Homo sapiens: one gene and its partners. The protein of the gene in region 3 interacts with the protein of the main gene of each other region in a pairwise test. Each region holds a gene or a part of one and is shown on either strand. Other genes may lie near its edges.

The links.
Region 1: the proteins of GORAB (region 3) and LPAR3 interact in binary tests that used the Homo sapiens proteins (3 or more experiments, as listed by UniProt).
Region 2: the proteins of GORAB (region 3) and PTAFR interact in a two-hybrid assay, tested with the Homo sapiens proteins (one large-scale study listed by BioGRID and IntAct).
Region 4: the proteins of GORAB (region 3) and FARSA interact in a two-hybrid assay, tested with the Homo sapiens proteins (one large-scale study listed by BioGRID and IntAct).
Region 5: the proteins of GORAB (region 3) and ITGAM interact in binary tests that used the Homo sapiens proteins (3 or more experiments, as listed by UniProt).
Region 6: the proteins of GORAB (region 3) and ZNF16 interact in a two-hybrid assay, tested with the Homo sapiens proteins (one large-scale study listed by BioGRID and IntAct).
Region 7: the proteins of GORAB (region 3) and PTPN9 interact in binary tests that used the Homo sapiens proteins (3 or more experiments, as listed by UniProt).

Annotation. Positions count from the first base shown.
Region 1 is NC_000001.11:84,886,707-84,890,206, reverse strand, and holds part of LPAR3 (lysophosphatidic acid receptor 3), read left to right. Parts: intron 1-3,500. UniProt on the Homo sapiens protein: Receptor for lysophosphatidic acid (LPA), a mediator of diverse cellular activities. May play a role in the development of ovarian cancer. Seems to be coupled to the G(i)/G(o) and G(q) families of heteromeric G proteins.
Region 2 is NC_000001.11:28,146,666-28,149,678, forward strand, and holds the end of PTAFR (platelet-activating factor receptor), read right to left. Parts: 3' UTR 501-3,013; downstream 1-500. UniProt on the Homo sapiens protein: Receptor for platelet activating factor, a chemotactic phospholipid mediator that possesses potent inflammatory, smooth-muscle contractile and hypotensive activity.
Region 3 is NC_000001.11:170,545,666-170,549,165, forward strand, and holds part of GORAB (RAB6-interacting golgin), read left to right. Parts: exon of another isoform or gene 1-126; intron 127-3,500.
Region 4 is NC_000019.10:12,930,912-12,935,028, forward strand, and holds the start of FARSA (phenylalanine--tRNA ligase alpha subunit), read right to left. Parts: upstream 2,801-4,117; 5' UTR 2,786-2,800; coding exon 2,639-2,785; intron 2,386-2,638; exon of another isoform or gene 2,238-2,385; intron 2,127-2,237; exon of another isoform or gene 2,059-2,126; intron 1-2,058.
Region 5 is NC_000016.10:31,269,975-31,273,474, forward strand, and holds part of ITGAM (integrin alpha-M isoform 2 precursor), read left to right. Parts: intron 1-979; coding exon 980-1,110; intron 1,111-1,872; coding exon 1,873-2,018; intron 2,019-3,390; coding exon 3,391-3,500.
Region 6 is NC_000008.11:144,940,881-144,944,380, reverse strand, and holds part of ZNF16 (zinc finger protein 16), read left to right. Parts: intron 1-3,500. UniProt on the Homo sapiens protein: Acts as a transcriptional activator. Promotes cell proliferation by facilitating the cell cycle phase transition from the S to G2/M phase.
Region 7 is NC_000015.10:75,523,816-75,527,315, reverse strand, and holds part of PTPN9 (tyrosine-protein phosphatase non-receptor type 9), read left to right. Parts: intron 1-54; coding exon 55-198; intron 199-3,017; coding exon 3,018-3,107; intron 3,108-3,500. UniProt on the Homo sapiens protein: Protein-tyrosine phosphatase that could participate in the transfer of hydrophobic ligands or in functions of the Golgi apparatus.

The DNA of each region.
Region 1 (3,500 bases), about 86 Mb from region 3:
GGTACTGAGCCTCCCCCTTTCCGGCCTTGATGATCCTTTGTTCCTCATCCTGGATTCTGTATTTGTGGAGGAGTCACCTGGAACTCAGTCCTGCTGTGGATGGCAGAGGTGGTGATGGGGCTGGGGAGCTATCTGCATAAGTGCAGAGACTTTGTGCTTTTACAAACGGTGGACTAGAGGTACTTGGAGCACAGGGTTCTGTCTTTGAATCCTAGTCCCACTTTTGTGAGTTCTTGTGACCCTGAATAGATTGTCATGTTTAAGTTTTTTTCATTTATATAGTGGGGATAATAATTACTTTTCTACCTGTCTACATGGATTGTTAATGAGTTCCATTAACTTATGTACGTGAAAGAGCTTTGTACCCTGTGAAGAGTGCATAAACATTGGAATTAAAGAGGCAGGACATCCAGATGTGGGCCACCCCAGGCAGGCCCACTCAGCTCTGGCTATTGGGGGTTGGCAGTATCTCCACAAGCATGTTTTGAGTGCTAAGGGGGCACTGCTGCAGTTCTTCCATATTCCTCTCTCCCGTCCTCTGACATCATACTGGACTTCGAGGAGGAAATAGCATCAAAGGTTGAGAAACTGCTCTGTGGGGAATATGAGAGGAAGTTAAATTTCAGGACTGAGGTTACCCAACACTACATGATCGAAGGCATAGGGCAAAGTTCCAAAGAAGCTTTAATTTCGTGTTGGAATTACCTGTACTGTCTGCGCATCTCAGTTCTTAGTGGACAAACACAAACAGCTGGCCACCACCCATCCCACAGGTCAGGAGGAGGGTGCTGATGGCAATGTTGGACAATGTATTGGGTCCACCTATACCATCCTCACTCCCCTGTGCCTTCTTGCTGACTTGGGTCTCTAGTTTACTCTGCAAAGTTCTAAACTGACCAAAGGCATTGCTCCCCCACCCCCAAATTAAGCTAATTACTTAATTCAGTCTGAAAGATATTTGTTGCTCTCTACCTGTCCTGGCAAGCCAGCTGGAGGGTGGGGGAGGGGATTTAGTACCATTGAGGGGAAGGTTCTGACATCCTGGGTTATACCCACCCCTCTCTTCATCACCCCCAGTCTTATGTCCTCCTCTTTATTCCTCTTCCTTGGCTGGCCTCTTGTCCTGTGTATCTACAACCTTGAACTCCTCCCTTGCCCATGACCCCTGATACTGCCCTACTCCCATGATTCTGTCACCCCTCTTCAGATGTGAATCATTTGTACACCTCAGGCTGGGCCAGACTGGGTGTCACTGTGGAAAGCAACCTGCCCAGCACAGCCTGCCCCACCCCTTCCTGAGGATGTTCATCAACCCCTCTAATTACTCATCAGCTAGTCCTGTGTCTACATTGTTCCCTGGGACATTAAGCTGGAGCTTCTACTAGCCCTGGCCTTGACTCACCCATGTGCAGATTGACCAGTTATCAAGGGATGGCTTGGCAGGTGGCAGGGCTGGGTTGGAGGGCACATTAGCCCCTCCATAAGTGCACTATTTGGTCCAAAGGCCTTCCAAGCAAACATGCGGTCTAAATAAAAGCAGTGTATTTGCTTTATAAATGCAGCTTTAAGGCAAGCCCCTGGTCTCCCCTTTTAAGCCAAGCTATCCCGAAGCACATCCTCTGTAGAAATTCTGGAGCTGCCCCCAGACAGACTCAGACCATGTAATTCAAAGATAGGCAGCGGAGTCTATCAGCAGCATTCACTCCCTAAGGAGGTAGAAAGCCAGAGTTAAGACTCAAAGCCATTGGCAGTGACTAGTTATAGAAAACCAAAGCAAGGGATCAAGTATAGAATTTATTGGGAGCACATCAGTGAATCATTTACCTCCTGCCCTGTTTGATTTTTAGTAAGTCAGTTCGTCGAATGGGGGTAAGGAAGGCCTTTCTCTGGACAAAAACTATCACATGGGTCTGGTGAAGAGAAAATAAGTAGTATAATCTTTTTCTATGTCTCCATGGCATTAGGTTTGAAATCTCAATCTCTCCCTCTCTCTCCCTCCCTCCTTCTCTCTGTCTCTGCCTCTCTCTGTGTGTGTGTGTGTGTGTGTGTGTGTGTATGTATGTATATATATATATATAAAATATACATCATCAGTCTTTATTCTGAGAGGAAGTCATAGACATTATTCTCCATCACTCTTGAAAACACTCCAGCATAAAAAAAAAAGCAAGCACTCTGTCCTCCTATATAACCAGCGTACACCCATCAAATCAGGAAATGGACATTGATACAAAACACTATCATCCAATCCACAGAGCCCATTCCTATTTCGTCAGTTATCCCCCAAATGTCTCTTCTACCTGTCTGATCTAGGATTCATGTTACATTTAGTTACCATGTCTCTTCTGGAACGGTTCCTCAGACTTTCCCTGTTCCTAAAGTGTTTGCAGTTGTATAGGTCCTACATGCTGTAGGATGACTCCCAACCTGGCTGTATTGGGTATTTCTTCACAGCCTGACTGAGGTCATGCATTCTTGGCAGGAATCCTTCAGAAATGAAACTCAGCTCTTCTTAGCTTCTTACAACAGAAGGCACATGGTGCCAACCCATCCCACTGCTGGGATATTGACCTCAATCACCTGGTTATGTTGGTGTTTGCCAGATTTCTTCACCTTAAATTCGCCATTTTTCCTTCGTTTCCCTTTGTTTCCCCAAAGGTGTTTGAAAACACCTTTGTACTAGTGTTTGTGGGGAACTATTCTAGGGTTATGCAAATAGCCTGTTCCTCATTAAACCTGTACCTACAGAAACTACCATTTATTGATGACGTCTGCCTGAATCAGCCACCTCTATGAATGTTGCCAAATGGTGATTCTTTTTTTTTTTTTTTAAGACAAGGTCTCACTCTGTTGCCATGCTGGAGTGCAGTGGCATGATCTTGGCTCACTGCAGCCCCAACCTCCTGGGCTCAAGTGATCCTCCTGCCTCAGCCCCCCAAGTTGCTGGAACTACAAGTGCACACTACCACACCTGGCTTATTTTTTTTTTTTTGTATTTTTTGTAGAGATGGAGTTGGTTTCACCATGGTGCCCAAGCTGGTCTCGAAATCCTGAGCTCAAGTGATCCACCTGCCTTGGCCTCCCAAAGTGCTGGGATTACAGGCATGAGCCCCTGCACCCAGCCTCAAGTGATGATTCTTTATCACCGTCACTCTTTCTACATTTGTTAGTTGGCATACTACTATAAGGAAGAACTTTATTTTTCTGTTATGTTTTTACTAAGAACTGTTCATGGATTCCTTATGTATTCAATAAGTTGAAGTCTCACGATTGTTTTTTATTTTAATGCTCAAATTGTGCTCAATTTGGCCAATGGGGACCCCTTGGAGCTGCCTCCTGTGTCCTTTTAACACATCCCTATTATTCATTGAGCATTTCTTTATTTTCTGGCTCCACCAGATCATCTGGACTCATCTTCTACTTTCCTTGACCTAGTTAGGCCTCCCTTTTAGTAGAGAATGGTACTTTTGTCTTATTTATATTTTATATATTTAAGGCAT
Region 2 (3,013 bases), about 140 Mb from region 3:
CGGCTCACTGCCATCTCCAACTCCCGGGTTCAAGTGATTGTGATTCTCCTGCCTCAGCTTCCCAAGTAGCTGGGAAGCTGGGATTATAGGCACCCACCATCATGACCGGCTAATTTTGTATTTTTAGTAGAGACGGGGTTTCGCCATGTTGACCAGACTGGTCTTGAACGTCTGACCTCAGGTAATCTGCCCTCCTTGGCCTCCCAAAGTGCTGGGATTACAGGCGTGAGCCACCACACCCACAAATTTTTTGTAGAGGCAGCATTTTGCCATGTTTCTCAGGCTGGTCTCGAACTCCTGGGCTCAAGCAATCCACCCTCCTCAGCCTCCCAAAATGTTGGGATTACAGGTGTGAGCCACCGCACCCAGGCGAGAAACATTTTTATAGTTACGGTTTTATGTTTATGTCTACCTTCTATTTGTGGCAGGTAGTATTAGTTTTCATTTACAATTATGTTATAATGTTTTCTTTCAAATAAATGTAAGTTTTTAAAAGTGACTTAATTTAAAGAAAACTTCTTTATTAAGTAAATGGACAGTTGGTACACAGATATTGCAAAAATTTCGAGGCGGGTACATGAATGACTGAAATTCAGGAGACGCGGGGAGTTAGCACAGAAGCACTTTCCTCATTCAGAGCTCTTTTGGCTGCGAGAAACAGACACCCAATCAAATCAGCTTCAGCAAAATGAGAGAATGTATCCTGACAAGGGACGCTCACAGGGCCTAAAGGAAGAGTGCTGGGCCCCTGGAGGACTGAGGGAAGCCGGCAGGTCCCTGGAGGCGGTGCCCGGCTGCTCTCCAGGCGCCTGTGATTCCTCTGGTCCCTGCCTTGCTATGCGTATCTTCCCTCTGAGCAGAGCCATTTTCTCTACCACATTCATGCAGGTGCCCATCCCCCGCAACACACACAGACAAACACACACACATGGACACAGTCACAGCTCCAGGGTTTCTATGTGTTCAGGTAAGGGACCTGCAAAGCCTGAACAGCCTCCCTAAATCTAGATGCCCACCTCTCATCCTTTCAGCTCCCATCAGAGGATCAAGGGGCCCAAATTCGCAGAAAAGGGGAGGGTCTAAGATGAGCAGTCACCCTGCCAAGAGGTGTCTGCCTCAACATTAGTGGCGTATAACAATCCCATGAGGTAGCTTTAACCTCATAGGTAATGACCCTAAGAGGTAGGAAATTCAGTGCCTGGTCCCTCAGCAGGAAATGACACAGCCAAGACTTGAACCAGGCTTGTGTGATGCTGCACTAGCCACCGGGTCATCCCATCAGCCAAGTCCAGCCCACAGCTACCATCCCAGACTCCAGCAGGTTACAGGTCCATCGAGAGGCATTTCTCAAAATCAGCAATCCGGTGTTTGCCCGGTACACAGGAAATGAGTATCCCAGCTTCACAGGGACACTGACTGGAAGGAAGGAAGACTTCTCTGAAGGAGCACAGAGCTCTAGAAACCAGAGAAGTTTCCTCTGAGCCCCTTGGGTCTGAGGCTGCCAGGTTCACACTGCAGATACTTGTCTCAGGGCAGGAGAGGAGGCTCATTTGCATATACTTGCCAAAAATCACAAGCAGACATCTAGAGATCCCCAGGAGAAGCTGACACCTGGCTGACACCTGCTGACAGTAACTGCTCCTCCCACCTCCTGGAAGCTATGTTAGGAGGACCCTCCCAGAGGGCAAGGGAGGAGAGAACTGACAGACCCTTCTACCCAGGGGCCTCATGTACTTCCCAGCCCATGTGCCTGTTCGTATGGAAGCCCCTGGACATCGGGGTGTCCTGGCCTGGACAGCTCCAATTTTGCCTTTTTTGTTTGTTTGTTTGTTTTTGACACAGAGTCTCACTCTGTCGCCCAGGCTGGAGAGCAGTGGCGTGATCTCGGCTCACTGCAAGCTCCGCCTCCTCCCAGTAGCTACAGCCTATGGGACTACAGGCATGCGCCACCACGCCAGGCTAATTTTTTTGTATTTTTAGTAGAGACGGGGTTTTACCATATTGGTCAGGCTGGTCTCAAACTCCTAACTTCAAATGATCGGCCCACCTCAGCCTCCCAAAGTACTGGGATTACAGGCATGAGCCATATTTTTGTATTCTTAGTGGAGATGGCGTTTCACCACGTTGGCCAGGCTGGTCTCGAACTCCGGACCTCAGGTGATCTGCCTGCCTTGGCCTCCCAAAGTGCTGGGATTATAGGCATGAGCCACTGAGCCCAGCCCCAATTTTGCTTTCAAGGGGCCTTTGCCCACCCTCAGTGGGTGGCTGCCCCACAGAAGGTACTTAATTAGGGACTATTGTTGAGACAGAAAGAGGAGGTGGGCATCTCCTTCCCACTCCCCCAGAGCTGACTGGACTAGAGGCAAGGCCTTTGCAGACAGACACGTCTGTCTTGGGAAGCAAGCTCTTGTCCTAGCTTTTGGTCTGTTCATGTTTTATCTTCTTTGGTCACCATTAGGGACAGGTTGCCAGATGAGTCAGAGAAGGTTCCATCAAGCCCCTTCCCCTGAGAAAGGTCACAAAGACCTTGTGCCGGAGGGTGGAGAGAGGATGGCAACATCTTAGCTCAAAAGTCTGCCCCAAGGTAGTGCCATACAGTGAGGGCAGTGTCCTTTCCTAACCCAGTCTACCTCTATCACTTGAGAGTAGTTGCCCAAAGCTTTTTTTTTTTTTTTTTTTTTTTTTTTGAGATGGAATCTCGCTCTGTTGCCAGGCTAGAGTGCAATGGTGCAATCTAGGTTCACTGCAACCTCTGCCTCCCAGGTTCAAGCGATTCTCCTGCCTCAGCCTCCTGAGTAGCTGGGACTACAGGCGTGTGCCACCATGCCCGGCTAATTTTTGTATGTTTTAGTAGAGATGGGGTTTTACAATGTTGGCCAGGATGGTCTCGATCTCTTGACCCATGATCTGCCCACCTCGGCCTCCCAAAGTGCTGGGATTACAGGTGTGAGCCACTGCGCCCACTCCCCCAAAGCTTTAGACCGATGCCCCATCGGGGAGAACTAGGTGGTTT
Region 3 (3,500 bases):
AGAAATGAATCAGAATGCCTCATTAGGCCAGGGTAAACCACAACATCAGAATGTTTATATAACAATTTATTAAAGCGGAAATGCTTGATTGTGGTTTTTAATAAACTGTTGAGTGTTTAAGAAAGAGTCTTGTGGTTGTCCTTGTGACTTTTGTAATTGTTGTTGGACCATATGCTATTAGACTTAGAGTTGTCTTTATTAATTAACTACTTAAAAGAATGCCATCAGTAGCTGATAACCAGAGGTTCCAGGTTTCCATTAATAAGGTCATTAAGGGAGATAACAGAGATTTTATTTAAGATTAAACTAAGCCTTGATTTGTAGCACATTTTATTCTCTGTAACATAAGTTTGCCAGAGGAACATTTTTATGCCTTTGTAGCCTTTTATATGAATAATTCATATTATAAGGTAGAAGTACTAGGTACCTCAGTTGAAATTTGAGGCCGGGCACGGTGGCTCACGCCTGTAATCTCAGCATTTTGGGAGGCCAAGGCAGGTGGATCACGAGGTCAGGAGTTCAAGACCATCCTGGCTAACACGGTGAAACTTCATCTGTACTAAAAATACAAAAAATTAGCTGGGCGTGGTGGTGGGCGCCTATAGTCCCAGCTACTCAGGAGGCTGAAGCAGGAGAATGGCGTGAACCTGGGAGGCGGATCTTGCAGTGAGCCAAGATTGCGCCACTGCACTCCAGCCTGGGCAACAGAGCGAGACTCCGTCTCAAAAAAAAAAAAGAAAGAAAAGTAATTTGATTTTAATTTTGTCCTAGTGGAAACTGGAGAAAGACGCTTTTTCATATTCAGTATTATATAAGAAATGTCATAGTTTTAGCCTTCTAAGAACCACAACAAAGAAGGTGGGATTACTAAAGGAAAAAACATCCTATAGTCTATAAGTATCCTAAATGAAATTTTAGTAAATTTTTAAATCTTTAGTAAGTTACAGATGACAGTTTCTCATGGTACTAATATTGATGTAGTTGAATGTAAGTAGATGTTGTGTGCCACTATTTTTGTTTTTATTTTTAGGTTTTTGAGACGGAGTATCACTCTTATTGCCCAGGCTGGAGTGCAGTGGTGCGATTTTGGCTCACTGCAACCTCCGCCTCCCAGATTCAAGCGATCCTCCTGCCTCAGCCTCCTGAGTAGCCCAACTATAGGTGCCCACCACCACACCTGGCTAATTTTTTGTATTTTTAATAGAGATGGGGTTTCACCATGTTGGCCAGGCTGGTCTCCAACTCTTGACCTCAGGTGATCCGCCTGCCTCAGCCTCCCAAAGTTCTGGGATTACAGGTGTGAGCCACCACGCCTGGCCATGTGCTGCTATTTTCAAAAGCCGAAGCTCTTGCGTTGAGTCAAAGGGAAACAAAGACTTTGGTGACTAGAACCGTAGTGTGTCTTGTTCATGCGTAAGATTAAGGTATTATTTTCTAAACTTGCATTTGTGGTTATTGAGAAATTACAGATCGGTAAAATAATATTATGGTCCAGATTTGAAGTGAAAGATAATCCCTAGGACAGTCAGTTTTTATGGGAGATTTCCTTGTTTTTTCTTTTTTTAATAAAAATGATATCTTAGTTCTATAGTATTTGGTACAGTGCTATGTCCACAAAAGGTTCTTGGATAGTGAATAGGCCAGAACTTGCTTTAAAATTGGCTTCTGTAGAGCAGTGTTTGGATAGACACCTCTGAGAAGACTAGCACTTTGAGCCAATTTGAGAGAGTTGCTGCTGCTGCTGCTGCTACTGCTGCTACTGCTGCTACTGCTGCTACTGCTGCTACTGCTACTACTGCTACTGTTCACCACTGGGATTACAATGTTGCCATATGCTGTGCAGACCAGTTTATAAAATCCAGAGTGGCTGCATGTAGAACATTTTTTTAAATCACTATTGACCATCTAGGTTTCATAGACACCCTCATACATGCAAACATACACCCACAGACGAATATTTTTAAATCACTTTATGAGTAATTTTTAAAAGTAAGATTAAAAGGGATTGTGTAAAACAACTTTAAAATTTTAATAAGAATGTAAGCATGGTAACCATCTTTGTATCAAGTAATGTTTGACTCACAAACATAAAAAGCTGAGAGAGTATAGTTACATCCTTGTAGCAACACAAGATAGTCTAGATACTTGTAAAATATTGGGTGTATGTTCTCCCTGCTGAAATGATTAACTCTATGATAAAATCATTTTTCCTTTCTATGCTTAGAAATATATTTTTTACTGACTGATTCTTAAGTTTGAGAAAATTCACCTAGGATATGTTTTGCTGAAGACTCATCTGAGATTTCACATATGATCGATTTTATCATCTAGACTCTAGAATGTGTCTCTGCATTTGTATTAGTTTCCTAAGACTACCATAAGAAGTAATCCAAACTGGGTGACTTAAAACAACAGAAATTACTTCTCTTTCATTTCTGGAGGCCACATATCCAAAATCAAGGTGTCAGATTTGTGATTTCTTCAGAGACTCTAGGTATCCATTTCTTGCCTCTTCCAGCTTCTGGTGGCTGTGGGCATCCCTTGGCTTGTGGCCACGCCATGCCATTCTGTGCCTCCATAGTTATGTTGCTTTTTCTTCTCTCTCTAAACTTCCTCTGCCTTTCTCTTAAAAAGATGCATGTGATTACACTTAGGGTCCAGCTGGATAATCTGGAATAAACTCCTCAAAACCTTTATCTTAATCACATCTTTTTCCATATAAGATAATTTTCACTCATTTGTCATAGAAAGTAATATTCACAGGTCCCAGGAATTAGAAAGTGAATATCTTTGGGAGGCCATTTTTTAGCCTACCACACCATTCATCTTTTGATTTCTTTAACAGTGGCAAGATGTCTTCCTCTGTCAGTTGTCTCCACTTTGCAAATACTGGATAGGCAGAAAATGAAAACTAAAAACAGGTTACAAAAATGGTGTTTTCAGTCTTCTTTTATACTTTCTGGAGGTGACATGATACTTTGTACAGCACAGTAAAGAAGCTCAACAATGATAAGTTATTGCATCATCCTTTCAGATCATTTTCTTATTTTAATTTCTTTTTATTACAAAAGGGAATAATTGATAAGTAATGATGAAATAATTCCTAGGATGATGAAATGGCAAAATGTTTCAAGATACAGGAAATATAAAAATACTGCAATAATCCTATAATATATCTTAGATTTATGAAAGGGTTCTTTGGACCTCTCTGGTAATTGCAAAATATAATTTATTTTATTCTGTTTTTTTAAATAAGTAAATTTTCTCATTATTTGAAAGACTTAAGAAAAGATAAAAATTATGAAATGCTAATTTATACAAATAGTGAGAACTGCTCAGAAAAGGAACTGAAAAACTAAAAGTGGACCCGTGGAACCCAGTGGTATACTGAGGGTTAATGGTTGAGTTTTTAAACATTTCAGGGGATACCAAAACAAAGAGACAATTTCTAGAATCCTTTAAAAATAACATTCATTAATTCATTCCATCCCCCTTTAAAA
Region 4 (4,117 bases), on a different chromosome or scaffold from region 3:
CCCCTTGCTGTGTCTCCATTTCCCTTATGTAACACAGGGGTAGTAATAATGATAGTTTACACCTCCCAGGGTAAAGTACACCACTAAAGATGTTACCTGGCAGAAGACAAATTCTGTCGGTTTTGAACCTGTGACAGATTTTAATGTGAAAAATTAGGTGAACTGATATGTCTCCACATTTTTTTGTTTGTTTTTGTTTTCTTTGAAAGGGGGTCTCACCCTGTCACTAGGCTGGGTGCAGTGGTGTGATCATAGCTCACTGCAGCCTAGACCTCCTGGGCTCAAGCGATCCTTCCGCCAGTCCCGAGTAGCTGGGACTACAGGCATGTGCCGCCACACCTGGTTAATTTTTAAATTACTTTTTTTTTTTGAGACGGAGTCTTGCACTGTCGCTCAGGCTAGAGTGCAATGGTGCGATCTCGGTTCACTGCAACCTCTGCCTCCCGGGTTCAAATGATTCTCCTGCCTCAGCCTCCCGAGTAGCTCGGATTACAGGTGCCCACCACCACCCCCAGCTAATTTTTGTATTTTTAGTAGAGATGGGGTTTCACCATGTTGGCCAGGCTGGTCTCAAACTCCTGACCTCGTAATCGGCCGACTCCGCCTCCCAAAGTGCTAGGATTACAGGCGTGAGCCGCCGTGCCCGGCCCTTTAAATTACTTTTTAAAGACAGGGTGTTGTTATGTTGTCCAGGCTGGTCTCAAACTCCTGGCCTCAAGTGATTCTCCTTCCTCAGCCTCCCAAAGTGCTGGCATAATGGGCATGAGCCACCATACCCAGCCTGTCTCCATGTTTAAATGTTCACATGTCAGTGCCCAGAATGTCAGAGACGGGCCCTGGAGGTCCACATTACAAACAAAAACTGAGGTTCCAGGTCCAGAGTCATGAAGACAAGGACAACAAGGGTAAGTAGAGTGCACAGGGCCTGGCTCCCACTTCATTCTAATCCCAACTCTGCCCTTCACTTACTGTGTGACCTCAGGAAAGTTGCTTAACCTCTCAGTGACTCTTCTCATCCATAAGAGAAAGGTGTGATGGGTTCTACCTCAGATGATTTTAAGGAGTAGCTAAATTAATACTCAGAAAGAATATATAGTGCCTACCACGTGACAAACACTGCATAAATTTTTTTTTTTTTTTTTTTTGAGACGGAGTCTCGCTCTGTCGCCCAGGCTGGAGTGCGATCTCGGCTCACTGCAACCTCCACCTCCCGATTCAAACAATTCTCTGCCTCAGCCTCCCAAGTAGCTGGGATTACGGGTGCCCACCAACACGCCTGGCTAATTTTTTTTTGTATTTTTAGTAGAGACAGGGTTTCATCATCTTGGCCAGGCTGGTCTTGAACTCCTGACCTCGTGATCCACCCGCCTTGGTCTCCCAAAGTGCTGGGATTACAGGTGTGACCACTGCACCCGGCATAAATTCTAATTACTATAATTATTTTTATGGCTATTACTGTCATTAGATTGAACCTCACCTCCTTATATTATTTAACCCTCTGTGACGTATACAAATGTCAGATCATATTGGTCAAGGCACTGTCACCCCACACAACACAGCTGCCATCTCTCCTCTGCATTGAGGACTATGGGCTCTGCAGCCTGAGTGCCTAATTTCAAATCTGGGCTCATCGGCCTCTTCTATTCACACTGATTATGTTACTGACCATCAGTTGTCACATCTGCAAAATGGGAATAACATGGCCATCAGCCAGGATTATGGAATGGATTGGACAAACAAGCTGAGACCAAAGTGGGGCACAGAACATGAGCTCTACGGATAAACAGCCCAGATCCTGGCCCCATGGATCTAGCCTTCTGGGTGGCCCACGGGCCCCTCAGCATCCTACGCCTGTGACTCTGTCACTGTCCACTTGCCCAAGTCAGAAGGCTGGACTTCATCTGTGCGCCCCCTGCCTTGTCCTGAATCCCACGCCTTCCCCACCTCCCCCAAGCTTCCTTCCCATAGCCAGACATCATGCCCTCCAGCTTGGGGAAGTGCCAGCTTCTTCTTTCATCCCTTCACCTCCAGTCCTGTCCATGCCAATTCTTCCCAAAGGTGATGTGGATAGCACACTCATCTGACCGGCTCTAGCTCCTGCTATCGCTTCCCAGTTCCCTCATGAGGTAAAGACCTAAGAGGCTTTGCAATTACAGCTATGCTGGTCTCCCTTGCCGCCTGCCATCCCCCAAGATCCCGGCCACTGATCTCTAAAGTGCTATCACTTTCCTCAACAGAGAACAGACTCAGCCGTCACCTGCACCAGGCCGCTCTCCCTGACCCCCAAGGCTGGGTCAGCTGTCACAGCTGGGTCCCCTGTTTTCCCCCATCACTCTGGTTCTTGAAGCACCTTCCTATTACGTCGCAACCTGCGTGAGGGCAGCAACCGCGACTTCCTCGTCCATCATCGTACCCTCTACCCACGCTGACCGTGCCTCAATAAACGTTTATTGCATGAGGAACATCCGTGCGTCTGGGCCCTCACTCGTCCCACTTCCCGCCCGCACATCCCGGAGTGGACACATATACAGCTACCCCAAACTAGGCCTGAGGGAATTTGGCTTGGACGTAGAGCGCCCGTGGCAAGGGGACTGTAGGTGCAAGGGCAAGGCGGTCCGGCATCACGGGCCCGGCTCACCTCGCCCAGCGCCTGAAGGCTCTTCACGGCGCCCACCACCGCCTGGTGCTCCATGCCCAGCTCAGCCGCCAACTCGGCGCTGTCCAGGCCGCCATCAGACGCCTCCAGCCGCCGGAGCAGCAGTTCCGCCACCTGACCATCCGCCATGACTCCTTCCAGTGTGCTCAGCGTGTCCGGGCCCGGGTGGGCGGGGGGAGCTGAGCCACCGGAACCGGAACCGGAGTGTGTACCGCCATCTTGAATGTGTCTAACTGTAGAACAGGGCTCAATGTGTCGTCATCTTGAGTGTGGCGACGGAGCCGCAAAAGGTGCATGGGACTCAGTTCCCACCTCCACCCTGGCTCCATCAATGGCGTCTGGTTGACCAGAGGGGTAAAATTGATTATCTCAAGGTCAGAAGCACCGCCCTGTTTTGAGTTTTATCTAGCCTCACTTCGAGCGGGCTGTGTGACCTTGGACTTCCCCGTCTCTGGGTTACAGAACCCTCTGCCCTTCTGGTATTCTCTCTTGCCCTAGGAGAGGCGGTGGGTGGTGGGCTCCAGAGATGGTCATTTTGGCGATGTCAGCTACTTTTAAAATTTCAAAGGAAGGCTGGGTAGGTACCGTCCCTTTTTATAGAGGGAAAAGGAATTCACCTAGTAAGTCAAGGTGGCACCTAACCTGTGTGGACTACCTCGTATGTGGTAGTACTTAGCCCAGAACTGAGTACTTCACGTGTAGTATTTCATTTATCCCCAAAACTTTATGATGTAGATACTGATATAACCGCATTACACATGTGAGAAAACTGAGGCTCAGAGGGTGGTATGACTTGCCCAAGGTTCTACAGAGAGTTGGTGGAAATGAAGTCATAAATTATAAACCTTCCAGATCCTCCCACCCCTGTGCGCTGAGAGTAACGTCAGTGCAAATACTGCATGGCCTAGATTAGCACTGTCCTATAGAAACACAGTGCAAAACATCTTTCTTTTTTGAGACAGGGTCTTGCTCTGTCACCCATGCTGGAGTGCAGTGGTGCAATTATGGCTTACTGCAGCCTTGACTTCCCAGGCTCTAAGGATCCTCCAACCTTAGGCTCCTGAGTAGCTGGAACTGCAGGTGCGCGCCACCACACCCAGCTTTTTTTTTTTTTTTAAGTATGGGTTTTGGCCATGTTGCCCAGGCTGGTCTCAAACTCCTAGGCTCAGGTTATCCTCCTGCATCGGTCTCCCAAAATGCTGGCATTAGAGGCATGACCCACCTCGCCCAGCCAGCCAGACCCTGACTCTTACAAAAAAAAAGATGACTAATAAAATATTTTGCACTCGGCCGGGCACAGTGGCTCACCTCTGTAATCCCAGCACTTTGGGAGGCCGAGGCGGGTGGATCACCTGAGGTCGGGAGTTTGAGACCAGCCTGACCAACATGGAGAAACCCCGTCTCTACTAAAAATACAAAATTAGCAGGGCGTGGTGGCGCATGCCTGTAATCTCAGCTACT
Region 5 (3,500 bases), on a different chromosome or scaffold from region 3:
AGCTGAGCGGCAATGGGTAGAAAGTGGATTTGGGGATGGGGCAGAAGGCAGAGGAGCACATTCCACATCACTTTATATGTGTGTGCCCTTCCCTTTTCTAGAATCTACTCCTTTTGTATATCTGGCAAATCCTTCCTTCCTTCCTTCCTTCCTTCCTCCTTTGCTTTCCTTTCCTTTCCTTTCCTTTCCTTTCCTTTCCTTTCCTTTCCTTTCCTTTTTTTCTTCCTTTCTTCCTTTTCTTCGAAGTCTTGCTCTGTGACCCAGGCTGGAGTGCAGTGGTGCGATCTCAGCTACTTTTTGTATTTTTAATAGAGATAGGGTTTCACCATGTCAGCCAGGCTGGTCTCAAACTCCTGATCTCAAGTGATCCACCTGCCTCAGCCTCCCAAAGTGCTGGGATTACAGGTGTGAGCCACCTCGCCCAGCTGGGCAAATTATTTCCTGTTCTTCAAGATTCAGTCAAACATCACCACATTCCCTGATTCCCTTGGGCAGAATTAACGAAAATTTTCCATACCACTTTGTCCTTGTTTATTTACTTATTTATTTATTTTTAAGAGACAGGGTCTTTCTCTGTGGCCCAGGCTGGAGTGCAATGGCGTGATCATAGCTCACTGAAGCCTCAACCTTTTGGGCTGAAGTGATCCCCCACCCTCAGCCTCCTGAGTAGCTGGGACTACAGGCATGTGCCAACATGCCTGACTAATTTTTAACGTGTGTGTGTGTATATATATATATATATATATATATATATATATATATATATATATGTTTTTAACGTGTGTATACATATATATATATACACACACGTTAAAAATTATATATATATTATACATAATTTATATATATATTTAACATCTATATTTTTTATAGAGACGGGGTCCTATATTCTCATTGTTCAGCAGAGGGCTGACATGCAAAAAAACCCAAAACACCAAGTGTCAAATTACTTGATTCATACTCTTTTCCCCTTCCCCAGGGTGTCCTCAAGAGGATAGTGACATTGCCTTCTTGATTGATGGCTCTGGTAGCATCATCCCACATGACTTTCGGCGGATGAAGGAGTTTGTCTCAACTGTGATGGAGCAATTAAAAAAGTCCAAAACCTTGGTGAGGGCCCAGGGGTAGGTTAGGGAAGAGCCCACACGGGGCTGGAAGATACATGGCAACCGGGCCACCATGTTCTCCTCCCAGTTCAACTGCAGACATTGCCAAATTGACGATCGATTATGGTTTGCCTTCCTGAGTCTCTTTTCTGCTCTGTTGGATGCAGCCTCAGCATTCTTTCAGCCTTTTATAAAGCGGGCAGCTCTAATTGTTAAGGTTGGCATGGGAGATGAAGCCCACGTGTCATTGCTGGCTGAGTTCTATTTTCATTTTTATTTCTTATTTTTTTGAGACAGAATCTCACTCTTTCTCTCAGGCTGGAGTGCAGTGGTGTGATCTTGGCTCACTGCAACCTCCGCCTCCCGGGTTCAAGCAATTCTCTTGCCTCAGCCTCCCGAGTAGCGGGGATTACAGGCGCATGCCACCATGCCTGGCTAGTTTTTGTATTTTTAGTAGAGACGGGGTTTCACCATTTTGGCCAGGCTGGTCTCAAACTCCTGACCTCAGGTGATCCACCCGCCTCGGCTTCCCAAAGTGCTGGGATTACAGGTGTGAGCCACTGCTCCCGGCCGCTGGCCGTGTTCTAGTATTGAGGAGAGATGGGAGCTGCTGGCAGCTCTCCGTCCTGGTGAGGCAGGGGATTAGGGGCAGCACAGAGGAGGAATTTGGAGAGTGGAGTGTTTAAGATCTTCGTGGAGCTTGCTGGGAGATGTCTGAGGGGTGGGGGCACCTTCTCCAGCATCACACCAGCCGCCCCCTCCGCAGTTCTCTTTGATGCAGTACTCTGAAGAATTCCGGATTCACTTTACCTTCAAAGAGTTCCAGAACAACCCTAACCCAAGATCACTGGTGAAGCCAATAACGCAGCTGCTTGGGCGGACACACACGGCCACGGGCATCCGCAAAGTGGTGTAAGCTTCCCCTTTTCCCTTAGGATGGAGGGAGGAGGAGACACTTTTAGCTGGGCTTTGATGGATGAAGGGAGCCGTTCAGACAGGGGTGGTAGAGGATGCTTCCCCACCGGCAGAGGTGGGGAGGCTGTGCGTGGTGTGTTCATCAAAGGACAAGTTGTGAGTGAAAGGTGGGAGTGGAGTGGGGAAGTGAGGGAAAGGTGTCTGGAGGGAAGCTACAAAGATCAGCTCAGGCCAGGGAGCCAAAGGCAGCTTTACAGCCTGTGGTGAGATATCGCCATGTCTCATTTTGGGAAGTTCACTCTGATTTTGAGGTGGGTGTAGAGGCAAGGATGGGGTTGGGACAGAAGTACAAGAAGCACTGGAGAGTCCTAGAGGGGCTGGGGAGCTGGTGCAGTGCTCTGGGAGAGGTTTCCTGAAGGCCAATTAACTATATATATATATATATATATATATATATATATATATATATTTTTTTTTTTTTTTTTTTTTTTTTTTTTTTTTTTTTTGAGACAGAGTCTCACTCTGTCACCCAGGCTGGAATGCAGTGGCCTGATCTCGGCTCACTGCAACCTCCACCTCCTGGGTTCAAGCAATTCTCCTGCCTCAGCCTCCTGAGTAGCTGGGATTACATGCGTCCATCACCACCATCAGCTAATTTTTGTATTTTTAGTAGAGACAGGGTTTCACCATGTTGACCAGGCTGGTCTTGAACTCCTGACCTCAGGTGATTCACCTGACTTGGCTTCCCATAGTGCTGGGATTACAAGTGTCAGCCATAAATATATATATTTTTAAAATTCAAAAGTAATAATACTCAGTTAAAAAACCCAAATTATGCGAAAGTATAAAAACAAAAACCGTGAAGGCTTCCTTTCCCTTCCCTGCTGCTTTTCCAGGTCTCGGGGCAGTTGCATCTCAGTGCTAAGTCTCAGGGGAGACGGAGCCCCTCCGAGACCTCGCCTAGCTGTATCTGTGTCTGGGACTCTGCTGACATTTCCTTTCTGACGTTAATAGCATCTCTGGCTAGGTGCAGGGTCTCATACCAGTAATGTCAGCACTTTAGGAGGCCGAGGTGGGAGGATCACTTGAGGCCAGGAGTTTGAGACCAATTGACAACATAGTGAGACTCTATCTCTAAAAAGATAAAAAAATAAACCAAGTGTGGTGGTACATGCCTGTAGTCCCAGGTACTCAGGAGGCTGAGGCAGGAGAATCACTTGAGCCCAGGAGTTCAAGTCTGCAGTGAGCTATGATTGTGTCTCTGCACTCCAGCCTGGATAACAGAGTGAGTGTCTATTTCTTAAAAAAAAAAAAAAACTAGTGTGTCATCTACTTGCATTTGACTTTGTCCCTCCTGTTTCCTGCACAGACGAGAGCTGTTTAACATCACCAACGGAGCCCGAAAGAATGCCTTTAAGATCCTAGTTGTCATCACGGATGGAGAAAAGTTTGGCGATCCCTTGGGATATGAGGATGTCA
Region 6 (3,500 bases), on a different chromosome or scaffold from region 3:
ACGCCTGTAACCCAGCACCACGGTGGCTCATGCCTGTCATCCCAGCACTTTGGGAGGCTGAGGCAGGTGGATCACGAGGTCAGGAGATCAAGACCATCCTGGCTAACAAGGTGAAACCCCATCTCAACTAAAAATACAAAAAATTAGCTGGGCATGGTGGCAGGCACCTGTAGTCCCAGCTACTCTGAAGACTGAGGCAAGAGAATGGCATGAACCCAGGAGGCGGAGCTTGCAGTGAGCTGAGATCACACCACTGCACTCCAGCGTGGGTGACAGAGTGAGACTCCGTCTCAAGAAAAAAAAAAAGAAAAAAAGAAAAAAAAAAACCATAGAGAACTAAAAGAACCAGGAAAATGATGTGTGAACAAAATGAAAATATCAATAAGAAATACAAATTGTAAAAGAAACATAGAAAGTCTGGAACTAAAAAATGAAATGGAAATTTTGCTAGAGGGTTTCAGCAGTAGATTTGAGCAGGCAGAAAAATCGGCAACTTGAAGATAGGATAATTGAAATCATTCAGTCTGAGGAGAAAAAAGATCTAAGAAAAGTGAACTTAATGGCTGGGCGTTGTGGCTCACGCCTGTCATCCCAGCACTTTGGGAGGCCGAGGCAAGCAGATCACTTGAGGTCAGGAGATCGAGAGAATCTTGGCCAACGTGGTGAAACCCTGTCTCTACTAAAACTACAAAAATCAGCTAGGCGTGGTGATGCATGCCTGTAGTCCCAGCTACTCTGGAGGCTGAGGCAGGAGAATCGCTTGAACCCAGGAGGCGGAGGTTGCATTGAGCCGAAATCGTGCCACTGTACTCCAGCCTGGGTAATGGAGTGAGACTCTGTCTCAAAAAAAAAAGAAAAAAGAAAAGTGAACTTAATGGACCATGAGACACCATCAAGTAGACCAACGTGCATAGTAGGGATGTTCAAGAAGGAAAAGAATAGAGAAGGGGATGGAAAAAATATTTGAAGAAATAATGGCTGAGAGTATCCCCAATGTGATGAAAGACATGTCTACACACACAAGCAGTTCAACAAACTGAGTAGAGTCTATTTAAAGAGATCCACACCAGGTCTCTTTCTAATCAAATTGTTGAAATACAAGGAATCTTGAAAGCAGCAAGAGAGGAGACCTATCCCTGAACAAGGGGTTCTGGGTAAGATTTCTAGCCAGTTTTTCATCAGAACCCATGGAGGTCAGAAGGCAGTGGGACGGCTTAGTTAAACTGCTAAGAGGGGGAAAAAAACCTGTCAACTAAGAATTCTGTTATCTGGCAAAATTATTCTTCAAAATGAAGGAGAAATTAAAACATATCCAGGTAGATAAAAGCTGAGGAAGCTTGTTACAAATAGACTGCCCCACAAGGAATGCTTTTAAAGGGAGTCCTGAAGGTTGAAATGAAAGAACACTAGACAGGGACTCAAAGCCATACAAAAATAAAGACCTCCAGTAAAAGTAACTACATAGGTAAGTATAAAAGTTAGTATCCCTATATTTTGGTTTCTAAGTACACTTTGTATTAAGTTGGTGCAAAATTAATTGTGGTTTTTGCCATTACATATTTCCTAAGTGATCTAAAGAACAAATGCATAAAAGGTCTGCATTATAAGTCTATGTTTTTTACCCCACTATGTATAAAGGTGTAATCTGTGATGACAACAACATAAGGGGGGTAACATCTGTAGAGAAGCAGAGATTTTGTGTTACTGAGACTAAACTGGTATCAGTTGTTTTAGGATGTTAGAACGTTCATTGCAATCATCATGGTAATCAGTAAGAAAATATCTTAAAAATGGGCTTGACGCAGTGGCTCACACCTGTAATCCCAGCACTTTGGGAGGCCAAGGCAGGCAGATCACCTGAGGTCAGGAGTTCGAGACCAGCCTGGCCAACATGGTGAAACCCTGTCTCTACTAAAAATACAAAAATTAGCTGGGCATGGTGGTGGGCACCTGTAATCCCAGCTACTCAGGAGGCTGAAGCAGGAGAATTGCTTGAACCCAGGAGGCAGAGGTTGAACTCAGGCAGAGGCATGAGATTGTGCCACTGCATTCCAGCCTGGGTGACAGAGCAAAACTCCACTTCAAAAAAAAATCTTAAAAATGGGCCAGGCATGGTGGCTCATGCCTGTAATCCCAGCACTTTGGGAGGCCGAGGCGGGCAGATCACAAGGTCAGGAGATTGAGACCATCCCGGCTAACACAGTGAAACCCCGTCTCTACTAAAAATACAAAAAAATTAGCCAGGCAAGGTGGTGGGCACCTGTAGTCCCAGCTACTTGGGAGGCTGAGGCAGGAGAATGGCGTGAACCCGGGAGACGGAGCTTGCAATGAGCCAAGATCGCGCCACTGCACTCCAGCCTGGGAGACAGAGCGAGACTCCCTCTCAAAAAAAAAAAAAAAAAAATCTTAAAAATGGACACAAGAGGCCAGGCGCGGTGGCTCACGCCTGTAATCCCAGCACTTTGGGGGCTGAGGTGGGCAGATCATGAGGTCAGGAGATTGAGACCATCCTGGCCAACACAGTGAAACCCCATCTCTACTAAAAATACAAAAAATTAGCCGGGCACGATGGCACCCGCCTGTAGTCCCAGCTACTTGGGAGGCTGAGGCAGGAGAATCCCTTGAACCTGGGAGGCAGAGGTTGCAGTAAGCTGAGACCATGCCACTGCACTCCAGCCTGGGTGACAGCGAGACTGTCTCAAAAAAAAAAAAATGGACACAAGAAGTAAGGCAAGAATTAAAATGGTACACTACAAAAAAGGTAATACCTAAGAATACAGCAGTAGAGGAACTGAGGAACAAAAAGGTAAAAGATTTATCAAAAATAAATAAAATGGCAGAAGTCCTTCCTTTTCAGTAATTACATGTGAAGTCTCCAGTCAAAAGGCAAATATTGACAGAATGTGTAAGAAAACATGGTCCAACTATATGCCACAAGAGGCTTTAGATTCAAAGACACAATAAGTTTAAAGTGAAAGGTGGAAAAATATTCCATGCAGAGAATAACCAAAAGAGAGTTGGGGTGACTATACCAATATTAGACAAAATAGATGACAAATAAGGACAGTATGTATTTATAAAAGGGCAGAGTCATCAAGAAGATATGGCAATTATAAGCAGATACACATCAAAAAAAAGAGCTCCAAACTATCTGAAACAGACATAGACAGATTGGAAGGGAGAAATAGCTCTATAGTAATAGAGACTTCAGTACTCCACTTTGAAAAATGGATAGAACATCTAGACAGAAGATCACTAAGGAACTAGGGGATTTGAACAGCGTTACAACCCAACTAGACCTAATGGACGACCATCACTGTGGTCTAAATGTCCCCCCCAACCCCTCCCCTCTCCAGTCATATCTTGAAATCTAATCTGCAGTGTGTCGTTATTAAGAGGTGGGGCCTTTGGGAGGTGACTGGGCCATGAGAGCAGAGCCCTGTGAATGGGATTATCTCCTTATAAGAGGCCTGAGGGAGCTTGTTAGCTTCTTTTCTTGC
Region 7 (3,500 bases), on a different chromosome or scaffold from region 3:
CTCCATAAATATGCTCTCTTCTTACTAATTATTCTTTCTTTCTTTGTCAAACAGGCTACCAAGCAGTTTCTCGAAGAGATTAACAAGTGGACAGTTCAGTACAATGTTTCCCCGCTGTCTTGGAATGTGGCTGTCAAGTTCCTCATGGCAAGGAAGTTTGATGTGCTCCGTGCCATAGAATTGTTCCACTCCTACAGAGTATGTGGCTCAGGGGTAGACCAGACCTGTGGCAGTTGGGTTAAGTGTTGCTGTTGTCCCTGTCATGCTCGACACACACATTGGTTCTCTAAGTGTTCCTCCTCACTTTCATAAAAAATGGATCCATATCCAGGAGCCCTTGTGAGAGCTGAAGCTGGGCAAGGCAGCTACTGGAAGGCACTACTTTTGTACCTAAGTTTTGATCGTAGACCAGGATGCCACATCTAATGATTGAGACGGAGGAAGTAGCCTGACAGCATCCTGGTGGCAGGATAGGGGTTCACCCTTCCTAGAGTTTTAATCCTAGCTCTTTTCATTGGCCTCTGGCCACATGAAAATCTTGGTTTTCAGGTTGTCTAAGGCTTTTAGAAACTTGCCATTCAGATGAATGATGAGCTTAGTGGGCAGTTCAGGAAGGGAAGTTTTAACACTGGAAAAGAAGAGCAACTGTGTATTAGCTAGGTCCATTATCTTAAAGTATCTTTATGCAAATGTAGCGGCATCAGGATTTTACTTTGTTTTGATTTTTGTTTTTTGAGGGGGCATAGACTTTGGTTTTGTGCTTGTTTGCTTTCTCAGTTAGTAGTGTCTTTGATAAAACACTATACAGCATGTTACTTTGGGGTCAGAATCCTTCTAAAGAAATACAAAATCTCCCTAAAAAAAAAAATTGGGATAACAAGCACTAGGATTAGCTTAACTGAAGTTTGGTTACATCTGTCTTGTGGACCAGCTCATTCAATATTCATTCATTTACTCAACAGATACTTATTTTATACTTACTGTGTTCCAGGTGCAGAGATTACTATTTAGAAAGAGAGACTAGGGCTGGGTGCGGTGGCTCATGCCTGTAATCTCAGCACTTTGGGAGGCCAAGGCAGGTGGATCACTTGAGGTCAGGAGTTTGAGACCAGCCTGAACAAAATGGCAAAACCGCATCTCTACTAAAACTACAAAAATTAGCTGGGTGTAGTGGCACCTGTATTCCCAGCTACTCGGGAGGCTGAGGAGGGACAATCACTTGAACCAAGGAGGTGGAGGTTGCAGTGAGCCGAGATCACACCATTGCATTCCAGTCTGGGCAACAGAGTGAGACTGTTTAAAAAAAAAAAAAAGAAAGAGAAAATAAACAAAGAGTTGTAGAAATGTTATGATAAGGCAGCACTGGATTCTGTGGAAGCACTTTTTTTTTTGAGACAGAGTCTTGCTGTGTCTCCCAGACTGAAGTGAAGTGGCATGATCTCAGCTCACTGCAGATCTCTGCCTCCTGAGCTCAAGTGATCCTCCCACCTCACCTTAGCCTCCCGAGTAGCTGGGACCACAGGCATGCACCACCATACCTGGCTAATTTTTTGTATTTTTAGTAGAGACGGGGTTTTGCTATGTTGCCCAGGCTGGTCTCGAACTCCTGAGCTCAAGTGATCCACGCACCTCGGCCTCCCAAAGTACTGGGATTACAGGCATGAGCCACCGTGCCCAGCCTAAGAGGTTTAAAACAAGCGGTTGATGAAATAAGACAAACCAAGATAATATTTTTTTGTTATCGGTATATAAAGGTAGAGAATGTCTCCGGAAAAAGGAAGTGTAGGTGGTCAACCTTGTCATTTAAGAGGAGAACTGAAGAGGCTGGGCGCGGTGGCTCATGCCTGTAATCCCAGCACTTTGGGAGGCCGAGGCGGGTGGATCGCTTCAGCCCAGGAGTTGGAGACCAGCCTGGGCAACATGGCAAAACCCCGTCTCTACTAAAAACACAAAAATTAGCCAGGCATGGTGGCACGTGCCTGTAATCCCAGCTACTCAGGAGGCTGAGGCAAGAGAATCTCTTGGACGTGGAGGTTGCAGTGAGCCAAGATCATGCCACTGCACTCCAGCCTCAGCAACAGTGTGAGACTTGGTCTCAATTAAAAAAAAAAAAAGAATCTGGCCATCAGGGTGAGGAAAATGAAGTCATGGTAGCTGCTGTTGGAGACAATATCAGGTGGAGAGAAGGCTCCTATTTAAACATAGGAGAGGCCTAAACCTAGAAAATATGTGAGAACGTAGGCATCCAGACATTTTTGAGGTCCATATTTTAGTGTCCTGGTACCATGTCAGTGCTGCTGCGTGTTTAAGAACCTTGATCCTGCACCTGAATGTAACATACTGGTTACTCTTCAGGGTTAGGGTTCTTACTGAGTCAGAGAAAAATACCCTACCTGAGGGGCTGATAAAGTAGCTTTGGACAGGAATTCCGAAAATGCTTGACTGGCTTGGAGGCAGGTTACAAAGAAATTCATAATTCATTTAGTTGACTTCATTATTCATTTAGCTGAATTCTTTTTTTTTTTTTTTTTTTTTTTTGAGACAGAGTCTCATTTTGTCACCCAGGCTGGAGTGCAGTGGTGCTGTCTTGGCTTACTGCAACCTCCACCTTCTGGGTTCAAGCGATTCTCCTGCCTCAGCCTCCTGAGTAGCTGGGATTATGGGCGCGCACCACCATGCCAGGCTAATTTTTGTATTTTTAGCCGAGACAAGGTTTCACCATGTTGGCCAGGCTGCTCTCGAACTCCTGACCTCAGGTGACCTGCCCGCCTTGGCCTCTCAAAGTGGTGGGATTACAGGCGTGGGCCACTGCGCCCGGCCCATTTAATTGAATTCTAATTCAACTAAATGAAGTAGAATTGGTTATGAAATTAGTTACAAAATTTATTTAGTTATGAAATTTATAATTCATTCATTCATTGATAACCACCTTATCTCTGAGATTTGGTGGTTACATGGTGCTGTCCTGGATATACAGTATTTTCATATTAATACATTTTGCTGTGCTTCCTTTTTAGGAAACTCGAAGGAAGGAAGGCATTGTAAAGCTGAAACCTCATGAGGAACCTCTTCGTTCTGAGATCCTCAGTGGAAAATTCACCATCTTAGTGAGTGTTTAGGGACCTATCTTGTAGGGCCTTATTACTTCCTTTTTTAACTGGTGTCCTGTTTGGACTTTGTTTTTTTTTTTTTTTTTTTAATTTTATTATTATTATACTTTAAGTTTTAGGGTACATGTGCACAACGTGCAGGTTTGTTACATATGTATACATGTGCCTTGTTGGTGTGCTGCACCCATTAACTCGTCATTTAGCATTAGGTATATCTCTTAATGCTATCCCTCCTCCATCCCCCCCTGTTTGGACTTTGTTCCTATATACCTTATCCTGAATCTAGAGAGTCTCCACAGTTAGGAGCAGATGTGAAACAGCCATGCAGTTTGGTATAAAATTATTTTAGTAACAATTGAATTACTAATAGTTTCTAGTAATTAGAGTTAC